3 linked regions of the Homo sapiens genome follow. The protein of the gene in region 2 purifies or fractionates together with the protein of the main gene of each other region. This does not show direct contact. Each region holds a gene or a part of one and is shown on either strand. Other genes may lie near its edges.

Region 1 (3,500 bases), on a different chromosome or scaffold from region 2:
GTTTGAGCCAAGGTTGGCAAAGTCTGATTTGTGTTTTGAATAGGTCAGCTAAAGAGCCTGGGCTTTCTCCAGCAGACAATGGACGCCACTGAAGTCGAGTGCGGGAGCTTCACAGGGCTCTGGTCAGGCAGATTGGAGGAGGAGGGCTGGAGGCACCTGGGAGGGAGGAGGAGGAGCATAGTTGGGCCATTGGAGTAGATAAGGAGTGAGGCCTCGTGGGCAGGTGGAACTGGAGTTAGCCTGGGCAGGGGAGGAGGGGGCACAGAAGACCCACTTCAAAGAAGAATCTTCAAAGCAAGATGACAAGCTACGGAAGTGTGGAGGAGCCTGGAGCTGGGGAGAATGGCTGGGGAACAGAGTGGTCTGGGAGGCAGGATGCAAGGATCCGATGGGTATATGGAGTGTGAGGTAATGGATCATTCATGTGGAAGGATGCAGGGGGTTTTTGAGACCAGGGTTTGGAAGAGAGTTCAGCACTGCTGGTAGTTTTGGGAATCACCCATGTGCAGGCGACACATGAGGCAGTAAGGAACTCTGCAGGGGTCCCTGAGATTTGGAAATGTAGGGAAGAGCAATGGATTGAGGTCCGAACCTGGAGGATCTGCTATACGCAGAGCTGGGAGGAGGGACAGAGTCAGTACCAGAGTCGGAAAAAAGCAGGGTGGGAAGGGGAACCTGAGTCAGGAGACTTGCCTGGCAGGCGCTGCCCTGCCAGCAGAGGCCTGACAGTGGTTTCCATGAACTGCATCCCTGCTGTGGGCTGGGACAGGGCCACTGACACAGTATCGGAGCACAGAGGGGGAAAGGAGCAGGAGGGATTCCAACTCTGCCAGTTAGCAGCTGTGTGGCTTTGGGCATGTTACTTAACCTCTCTGAGCCTCATTTATTTCATCCATAAAATGGAAATAAAAATAATACTTTTGTCAAAGGCGCATTGTGAATATTTAGATCCTCAGAATAATGCCTGGCTTGTAGCAAATGGTAGCTGGAGGAAAAGGAAGAGAAAACCAAAGTCAGCAGCTGAAGGATTTTCATATTAGAACTGCTCTGGACCTATCTGGCAGATGCAGAAGCACACACACACGGAGGGGCATGGATTTGCCCCGCCCTTAGACATGTTGTGTCTTCTCCTGGATCCTTGGTCCCAGGTGCCTTACCTGAGCTCAGGTGAATGTGGCAAGCAGAGCCCTCTGGTGGTGTGAATGCTGTGTGGCGCCCGTGCTCCTGGTGACACAGGGACCTCACAATCCCTCCCTCCACGGTCTCCTCTCATGTCCTCCCAGCCTTATTTTCTCGTTCCTCTTCCTCCCAGGCCCGGAACTTGCCTGTTTGGCTCCCCAACCAGGACGAGCCCCTTCCTGGCAGCAGCTGTGCCATCCAAGTTGGGGATAAAGGTTGGTGGTCTGTGCCGGCTGGGCACAGCCCGACATCTGCACCCTGCTGTCTCTGCCTCTCTTGTCCTGCTGTCGTCACTCTTGACCTCGGTGTGCCTGGGCCAAGGTGGCACGCTGTACTCCTCAGGGTCTGTGTTCCAGGCTGCTGGCTAGATCTGCCTCCTACCTGCCTCTTTTTTGCTCAGGGCCTCCCCACCTGCAGCTCAGCCTCTTGGGGATCCCTCCCACCATTACTGCAATAGCCGCCCTCTCCCTCCTGGGGTGGAGATCAGGCAGCCCTTCCCACAGCTCAGTCTGGTCTCCTCTTCAGTCCCCTATGACATCTGCCGGCCAGACCACTCAGTGTTGACCCTGCAGCTGCCTGTGACAGCCTCCGTGAGAGAGGTGATGGCAGCGTTGGCCCAGGAGGATGGCTGGACCAAGGGGCAGGTGCTGGTGAAGGTCAATTCTGCAGGTGGTGAGTTGTGCCCCTGGATAGACCCCAAGGGAGGGTGGCCCCTCGGATCTGCGCCCAGGTCCCCCAGTCAAGATCATTGTCATCATTGTCATCTTTCTGGTCTTCCTCAGTGTGAATGATGGCTAGCATTAATGGGAGGTGGAGTGCGTCTGTTCGAAGTGCATTTCATGCAGTGTGTAAGAGCATGAGCTCTGGAGCCTGCTGCTTGCATTCGGCACCAGCCCTTTAGCTCACCATCTGTGTGTCCTCTGGCAGGGTACTTCATCCCTCTGTGCTCAGTTTTATCATCCATAAAATGGGAATAGTAGGAGTACTTGCCTCCTGGAGGAATTGTGAGGATCAATTGAGTTCATCTATGAAAGCATTTAGAATGGTGCCCGGCACATAGTGATACATAAGTATTAGCTGCTATTATTATCATCATTTGTGTTTAGTCATTTAATATGAATTAATAACAATCTCATGAGATACAGGTACTTTTATCCTATTTTCAGACAAGAACACTGAAGCTCAAAGGGCATGAGCTATTCCTCAAGCTCACACAGTGAGAGTAGCTGGTCTTGGAACTTAAGTAGTCTTCATTTGTTTAGTCACTCAGCAAACATTTTTGAGGATCAGCTATGAGCCAGCAATATGTTAGGAGCTGGAGATACCACAGCAGGTAAAACAGGTCAGCTTGATGGTTAAGAGCATAGACGGTGGACTCCCAGACCCGTGAAGGCATCTTAGGCTCACCATTTACTAGCTGTGTGATGCTGGGCAAGTTGCTTAACCTCTCTGAGCCTGCATTTCCTCACCTGTCAGATGAGGACTGTAATTGTATCTACCCACAGGGTTGCAATGGCTAAGTGAGCTAATGTGTGTAAAGCACTTAGCACAGGGCCTGCCAGTCAGTGCTGAGAACATGGCGGGCTCAGGAGTATTAAGATGGGCCTCCAGAGAACCTGGAACATTCAAAACCACTGTTCTCTGCGGAGGGCACGGGCTTGACAGCTGGAACCCAGGGCAGACAAGAATTAGGGGCGTTCAAGAAGTGGGGATGAGAAAAGAAAAGCCTTCTCCCTTCAGGAAGTGGGGAGAGATGGTCACCTGTGTGCCCTGCCCTGGGAAGCACTGCCCTCTGCTGGCCACCTGGTGAGTTGCAGTTGCCCAAAGGTCATGTTTATTGAGACCCTACTATGTGCCAGGCACTGTTTAGAGCACTGATCTCCGAAGCACTTGGATCGACACCCATGTCAATAACCAACATTTAATTAAAACCCACACCCCACTGTGTGAATATTTGTTTGTAAGTAATACACATATATTACTACATTAATATCATAATAAAGATAGATAAAATAGAAATTGATGGAGTAGAAATGCAAAGCAGGTAGAAAAAGTAAACGTAAGTAGAAGAGCTCATATTTTCCCCAGGCACATGGATGATCTGATGTACCTTACTTTGGAGGCCACTGCTCTAGGGACTGGGGACTCAAGCACAGTCCCAGTCCATGAGGAGCTGATGAAAATCAACACCAAGGCTTATATAAGACACTTCCCAATTTTCAAAGGGCTTTTATACATAGCATGTACTTATAGCTACTATTTATATACATTATTTTATTTGACTTATGAAATAGTTGGGGCAAGTCTTATTGTCTCCATTT
Region 2 (4,007 bases):
CTCTCCTTGCCGTTTTGTGCTGTCTGGACACAGCCCTGGGATGTGAATGGTATAAAGCAGGGTCTGGGGGATAAGCTCCTTTCTCCTCTCACCAGTCTATTGGTCTAAAGAGCTTCAAGTTTTAAATTGAGACATTCAGATACTGAGGGAAGCAGTAGAACAGTATAGCAGTGGGATACCCCCAGGACCCTGCTAGAACTCAGACCCTGGTGGTTGAGGAGATGGGGGATGGGAAATGGAGGAAAGGGTGCAGCTCTGGGCACCTCACTGACGGTATCCTGCCCCAGGTCACATAAATTACTATTGGAAATCCCTCCCAGGATGCCAAATAAATAGATTGAGATAAAGAGGTCCCTGGAGTTGGGGATATAATCTCCCTCTACGAGGGAGGAGGTTGCTCTCTGAGACCCATCCTCAGTCCCCATTCAATACCAGCATTTGACAGTGCTAGGAGAGGGTTCTCAGGCATCAGATGCTATCCTATTCTAATTTGTCCCCTCCCCCATCCTCTCCCTGTTAACTTTGGTTTGAGACACCTCACAGGAATGGATGATGGGGAGGGACAACCCCTCCCATTTAGCCCAGCCCAAGTCCCCACAACAAGACATCTCCCTCCCCTCCCCCTAGCTCCCATCTCCCTCAACCCCAAAGGACTCAGCAGTAGCCATTCTCTAAAGGAGCTGGGGGAGTGGATCCTTGGGGAAGGGAGGGCGGCTCTTTCAGAACTCAATCTTGCAGGCAGGGAAGGACTCATCCTGCATCACCACGGTGCTGCTGCTAGCCAGGACCAGGACATTCAGTTGTTGCTGCTGCTCATGAGTTTGTTGGTACCACTCACGAGTCACCTCCGTGTCATGAGTAGGGATCAGAGTCACCTAGAAGGGAGATAAGATATGTCTGATGTGAGAACATAAAGGGAAGGTAGGTGAGGGGGAAGGGGCACCTCATGGTCTCAGAAGCAGCTCTGCTGCCCTTAGAAAAGGCCCATCCTTTAATAAATAGGGACTGTGTTCCACTACTGCCTCTGAGTGAGCGTTGACCAGACTACTTCCTTGGTGTCCTTTGCTACTCACCTGAAGATTCTCCCCCCACTGGGCCTTGCCCTCCAGCAGGGCATCCAGCACAGCCCGGCTTGGCTCGCCATTGGCAGGGTCATTCCCACTGACCACATAGTAGGATGCACGCACTCGACGGAAGAAGTCAAGGTCAGCAGTCTTGCCACTGCAATGATTCGGGATGTAGGCGAGATCCACATATACAGGGGCACCAGAGCTGCCCTTGGAACTCAAGGCCACTGTAGAGACAAGCCAGGATTCATTGTAGAGGAAAAGTAGAACCCTTTTGGCAACCTTCCCCTCTGTCCCACTCCTGAAGTCTGACCAGCCCACACCCAGCCCTAACCCACACTCTCTGCCAAGTTTCATGATATACTTACTTGGTCCTGCCTTGAGTCCATTGACTAGGCCTTTGGACATGGGGCTGTGTCCATCCTTTTCCTCTGCTGGGGTGACCTGGCTTGTGGTGCTGCGTGGTCGAGGTGGGGCCCGGGATGCTCGATCTGCAGGCCCTTTACCAGGGGTGGGTGAGCGTTTTCCCCGAAGATCCAGACGCCGTGCAGGGGACGCTGGCTTGGCCTTGCCTGGGGCCCTGCGCCCTACTCGCCCCTGAACCTTTTCCTTCTCCCGTAGCCTCTCTACTCTCCCAGACTCTGAGCTGAGCCCCTCGGGGTCAGCCATGCACACATCAGGGCGGGGAGGGGATGGGCGGGGGTCTGGCTGTGGGAGAGGAGGTGGGTCATGGCCAGGCCTGGGGTGGTGAGTACCACTGACACCCCCAGCTTTGTCCACAGGTAGGAAGTCTCCATCTTCATCTGAGTCGAGGGCTGCCTCAGCTGTGATGGACGGACACTCCTCAGTTTCTGGCGGGACATCAGAATCTGACTGTGAGGAGCCTGAGTCACTGGCTGATGTAGGGGGTGTCTCATCAGTCACAGGGCATGGGCCCCCAGTGGTCCCTGGCCCCCCTACCCGGCGCCGCCCCCCTCTTCCTACTAGCCGAACTTCCTCAGTTGAGAGGTCCCTATCATCTATGGATGGGGGCAGAGGTGGGTTCAGGAAGGATGGGGAGAGCTCCCCACGATGGGGCCGAGGCTCAGTGGCACATCCCTGGGGCCCAGCTTCGACCTCAGGAGAGGCACTGCTGGGTGGGCCCCCGGAGCCCCCTGCAGGACACACTGGCTGCTCAGGGGAGAGCAATGTGTCAGGCCGGGAGCTCCTCTCAGCTCCTTCAGGCCAGGCCCCACGTTCCCAGGCAGGGCAAGCCGCAGCCTCTTCATTTTCAGCCTTGGCTGGGGCAGGGCCTGGGGGGTTAGGGCTGGTTTCAGTTGGGCCATTGGCTGCACAATCCTCAGAGGGAACCTGGAAGGGGCTTGGCTTCTCCGTGGCTGCCTCTGAGCACTCCAGGTGGCACGGCAGGATGCCATCACCCATGTCTCCAGGCAGGCTTGGAGCTGGAGCTAGGGCCAAGTCCAGTGAAGCTGGGGGTGCTGGGCTCAGAGGAGTGAGGTCCCAGAGGCTGTGGGCAGCTGGTTCCATTCCTGGGTCCAGCTCTCCAGACTCCTGTTCTGCAGCCTCAAGGCTTGGAGAGAAGCGCTCCGCCACACTTGAAATCACAGGCGTGGTAGCCTCAGAGGAGGAGCCCTCAGACAGGGCTGGTGAGGCAGGTCGTGGCAGATTGGAGAGGAGAGGGGCCCCAGGAGAACTGGGTGATGGGAGCTGGGGCAGTGAGGAATCCAGGCTGGGGGCCTTGGTCACTTCCAGGTATTCATCATGCCGGGTTCTGGTGGGGGGTCCTGGAGCCAGAGCCAGAGCTCGATCCCCAGAGAAGGCAAGGGAGCCACAGGGTGCCGAGCGGGGTTCAGCTGGAGAGGGCAGCTGTGGGGGAGCTGGCTGCAATGAGGAGAAGCCAAAGGCTGAAGCAGGGAAGTCCAGACTGGGTCGGGCAGGCCCCAGGTGTGAGTCCAAGGGAGGGCTAACATGTGCCTCAGTTTCTGGCCATAATGTGGGGGACCCCATAGGAATGGGGTGAGGAGGACTTGGGGATTGGGCCTCTTTTTCTGGCTGTTCCCGAGCCCCCTTCTCCAGTTCTGAGTCACTAGTGCTGTCATCCCAGTGACTCCGGCCTGATTCCTTGGGGGATGGGGACCTCCTATCTGGGCTGCAGCTCAGGATGTTACCATTAAGAGGGGGGCTTGGGCCTTTGCTCAGGATAGGAGCACGGGGGGGAACTGCAGGTGGGGTGAGGCTGGGCTCCATACTTGGCCCTGGCTCTGGCCTTGGGGGTACAGTGGGTCCTGCCAGGGCTGCATAGCTGAAGGTTGGAGTGTCAGACTGGAGGCTCTTGGGTGAGATAGGAGATGAAAGCTCCTTCTCTGCAGATGTGTTTCGGCCGGCAGCTGCCTCCTTGGTTGAGAGGCATGGGGGCCAATCCCCAGCTGCTCCAAGTGGAGGCTCTCTAGTGGGGCATGCAGGGCCAAGCCCAGTAAGCATCATCTGCTCATAGATGTCTGCATACTGAAAGCTTCTCTCATCAGGATAGGGTGTGGGCTCTCTCTGCTCCGGCTCAGTCTGCTCAGGCTCCGTGGTGGCATGGCTTTTGCTGGCCTCTGGTACCTTTGAGCTGTGTGAGCTTTTGTCAGGAGCCTCAGCCCTACCTTCTTCTTCCCTTTCCCCTTCAGCCTTGCGGTAGTCCTTCCCCAGGGGGGAGTATGGCCCACCTTCCAACTCAGCTGCCCCCTCCTGCACTGCAGCCACCACACTGTCATACTCGGCTGTGCCCCAAGAGAAGGGTGCAGGAGTATGGGATTCCGGGGCAGGTGTGGGGGGACCAGGAGCTGGGGAGAGGGGTGCAGGGGGGAGGGGTCTGTCCTTGGGCACCCAGGGTGGGATGTCAGCCAGCCATGAGGGAGTAGTGGGTTCATTCTTCATGTGTGGCATGAGCTTAGGGTC
Region 3 (3,500 bases), on a different chromosome or scaffold from region 2:
ATAATCATTGCTGGAATTTATTATTTCATTTAGGATTACAAAAGGGTAATATTTATTTATTTGTTTGTTTGTTTTTTATTTTTTTTGAGACAGTGTCTCATTCTGTCACCCAGGCTGGAGTGCTGTGGAGCAATCTGAGATCACTGTAACCTCCACCTCCCGGGTACAAGCAGTTCTCCTGCCTCAGCTTCCCGAGTAGCTGGGACTACAGGCATGTGCCACAACGCCTGGCTGATTTTTGTAGTTTTAGTAAGAGACCGGGTTTCGCCATGTTGGCCAGGCTGGTGTTGAACTCCTGACGTCAGGTGATCTACCTGCCTTGGCCTCCCAAAGTGCTGGGATTACAGGCATGAGCCACCATGCCCGGCCAAAAGGATAATATTTTAAATCTGTGATTCCTTCCCCAGTTACTAGCTGCAATTCTGTAAAAAAAAAAAAAAAAATTCTTTTTCCTTGTCCTGTATGGATATTTCATTACTCTGAAACACTTACTTTTTGACTCTCGTATACCATTTTTCAACGTTGGAAGGCAGTCTCCTCATTCTTTCCACTAGTGTCCAATGAATAGTGTGGCTTTTGTTGGTGGTTTTGTTTCTTTTAAATACATACTGTTTTTTATTTTTAAAAATTCAAGCTAATATATTTAATTATGAAACTTATCTTTTTCATACCAAGTAGAATAATAATTTTGAGTTTTATAGAGTGATAAATATATTGTAGGTAGGTTTTTATCCTGGGTATGTTTTTGTGATCCATCTTCAAAGCTCTCTTCCTTACATCACCAATGGCATGCTCAATGAATGCAAATTAAAGATTTGTTCAAGAATTTTAACACAGTTTGGGTATTTCCTTGAATTTAGAAAAAAGAGATAGCAGTCACATCACTAACAGAATCTTTTACTATAGTATAAATCAATACTTTAGAGCTTCATTTGGACAAGCAGATTTGTTCACAATACAGATTAAACTCCAATATTATTATAAGGCCTAGAATAATGGAATTCTAACAGTGTTTAGGAAGGAGTAATATGTAAGCCCAAGATTTTCAAATATAGCCAAGTGATTGTTTTTTCCATTTTATAACCAAAGCCAGGAGATCTGACTCTAGTTTTGGCTCTACTTAAGCTTTACTTTTCTCATTTGGAAAGTGAGAGTTTTGGACTAGATCTACTGTAGGTTCTTTTCCAACTCTCTATGATTTTATGTAAGTTCGCAAAAATTTGTTTCTACTAATTAGTATATTTTCGCTTTTCAATTATAGAGTCTATTAATATTTAGGTTATTTTAATTTATTAAAATAATTTCATTATGTTTAGAAATATGGTATTTCTATAATTGTGATAGAAAAGTTTTATGCTCCTAGGAACTTCAAGAGCAGCTGAAGATCACCACCTTTAAAGATCTTGTAATCAGGGACAAAGAACTCACAGGGGCATTAATTGCTTCTCTTATCAACTGCTACATCAGAGATAATGCCGCTGTTGATGGCATTAGTTTACATTTACAGGATATCTGCCCACTTCTATATAGCACTGATGATGCAATTTGTTCTAAGGTATGATACTTTATTACCTATTTCATTGTTTGTTATAAGAGGTATCATGTATGATGAACCATCTTGTTTCACTTAATATAGGACCTCAGTCAGTTAGATCTCTTAACCTCTCCTAGCCTCAGAATCCTCATCTAAGAAAGGGGTTGGAATATGTGGCTTCTTAAAACCAGTGTATACTCTTTTAAGCTTAGCTTTTCTTTTTAAAAATATTTTTATTTATTTATTTGACACAGGGTTTCACTCTGTTGCTTAGGCTGTAGTGCAGTGCTGTGATCATAGCTCACAGCAGCTTCTAAGTCCTAGACTCAAGCAGGCCTCTCATGTAGCTAGGGGCTACGGGTGTGCACCACTACACCCAGCCAATTTTTTTGTTTTTTATAGAGACAAGTTCTGATTTGTTGCACAGGCTGGTCTTGAACTCTTGGCTTCAAGTGATCCTCCTGCCTCAGCCTCCCATAGTGCTGGGATTATAAGTGTGAGCCACCATGCCCAGCCCTCCTTTAAGTTTTTCATAAAGAATATTCTCTCTTTTTTTTTAAGACTGAGTACGATCTCAGCTCACTGCAACCTCCACCTCCCAGGTTCAAGTGATTCTCCTGCCTCGGCCTCCCAAATAGCTGGGATTACAGGTGTGCACCATCACACCTGGCTAATTTTTTATATTTTTGGTAGAGACAGGATTTCACCATGTTGTCTAGGCTGGTTTTGAACTCCTGACCTCCGCCTGCCTCAGCCTTGCAAAGTGTTGGGATTATAGACATGAGCCTCTGCGCCTGGCCCATAAAGAATCTTTGATAGTGTTTCTAGGCCATATTAAAAAACCAAAGGTGAGAAATTAAGAAAAATCACTAAATTTAGAAATTAAGGAAATTTAGGGGATAATTTATCTCCTTAGCTTAAGGAAAAGTACTAAAACTTCAAGTAAATCTTTTAGTGAATTAGAGTTAATGGGGGCATTTTTATTGATCCTTTCCTACAGGTGGAAAAAATAAATAAATCAGTGTCACATGGACTGCCTGCTGCCCAATAATGTATTGACTAGGCAAGAGAATTACCAGACAAAAGTTCTCTTGCTTAACATATTTGGGAGAGGAATTAAGAATAGCTAGGAATCTTTGGTCAAAAACTTTTCTGCCTAAAATTAAGAAGTAAGTTTGTAGAGTTGTTTTCATTTTAATGGTAATAACCATATATAAATTTAGACATAGACTAAAACTTAGTTGACAGCATCATCTGTCTGCTTGATTTTATATATTTTTAAGTTCTTGTTATCTCCTCTTCTAGGCAAATGAGCTTCTCCAGCGTTCCCGACAAGTTCAAAATAAGACTGAAAAAGAAAGAATGTTAAGGGAATCATTAAAGGAATATCAAAAAATTAGCAATCAAGTGGACCTTTCCAATGTTTGTGCTCAGTATAGACAAGGTGAGAAATAAAATGTTTCTTGTATCTTTTACTCAACTCAAAAGACAAACAATAGTGTATGAATGAAGCAAGCTAATGATGAAAAGCCACTTTCCAGATGCAAATCTTCTTTCAGCATCAGAGGCCGAGTGAAAGGACGTAGGAATGTGGTATCATTGTGTTGCAATATTTGATGACTACACTGACCTGCAGAAGCTGTAATGTTCTTTCTATTTTTTGAAATGTACTTTTTTTTTTTTTTTTTTTTTTTTTTGAGAGTCTCGCTCTGTCAGCCAGGCTGGAGTGCAGTGGCACGATCTCAGCTCACTGCATCCTCTGCCTCCCAGGTTCCAGCAATTCTCCTGCCTCAGCCTCCCGGGTAGCTGGTATTACAGGCGCACGCCACCACGCCCAGCTAATTTTTTATTTTTTTATTTTTTTATTTTTTTTATTTTGAGACAGAGTCTTGCTCTGTCACCCAGGCTGAAGTGCAGTGGTGCGATCTCAGCTCACTGCAAGCTCTGCCTCCCAGGTTCACGCCAT

The links.
Region 1: the proteins of MAP1A (region 2) and RAPGEF3 purify together in Homo sapiens (affinity purification with western blotting, with the first as the bait; one study listed by BioGRID). This does not show direct contact.
Region 3: the proteins of MAP1A (region 2) and NUP155 purify together in Homo sapiens (affinity purification with mass spectrometry, with the first as the bait; one large-scale study listed by BioGRID). This does not show direct contact.

What each region holds. Positions count from the first base shown.
Region 1 is NC_000012.12:47,741,881-47,745,380, reverse strand, and holds part of RAPGEF3 (rap guanine nucleotide exchange factor 3), read left to right. Parts: intron 1-1,312; coding exon 1,313-1,394; intron 1,395-1,704; coding exon 1,705-1,851; intron 1,852-3,500. UniProt on the Homo sapiens protein: Guanine nucleotide exchange factor (GEF) for RAP1A and RAP2A small GTPases that is activated by binding cAMP.
Region 2 is NC_000015.10:43,526,937-43,530,943, reverse strand, and holds part of MAP1A (microtubule-associated protein 1A), read right to left. Parts: coding exon 1,436-4,007; intron 1,295-1,435; coding exon 1,074-1,294; intron 876-1,073; coding exon 720-875; 3' UTR 1-719. UniProt on the Homo sapiens protein: Structural protein involved in the filamentous cross-bridging between microtubules and other skeletal elements.
Region 3 is NC_000005.10:37,308,607-37,312,106, reverse strand, and holds part of NUP155 (nuclear pore complex protein Nup155), read left to right. Parts: intron 1-1,363; coding exon 1,364-1,555; intron 1,556-2,534; coding exon of another isoform or gene 2,535-2,585; exon of another isoform or gene 2,586-2,684; intron 2,685-2,839; coding exon 2,840-2,978; intron 2,979-3,500.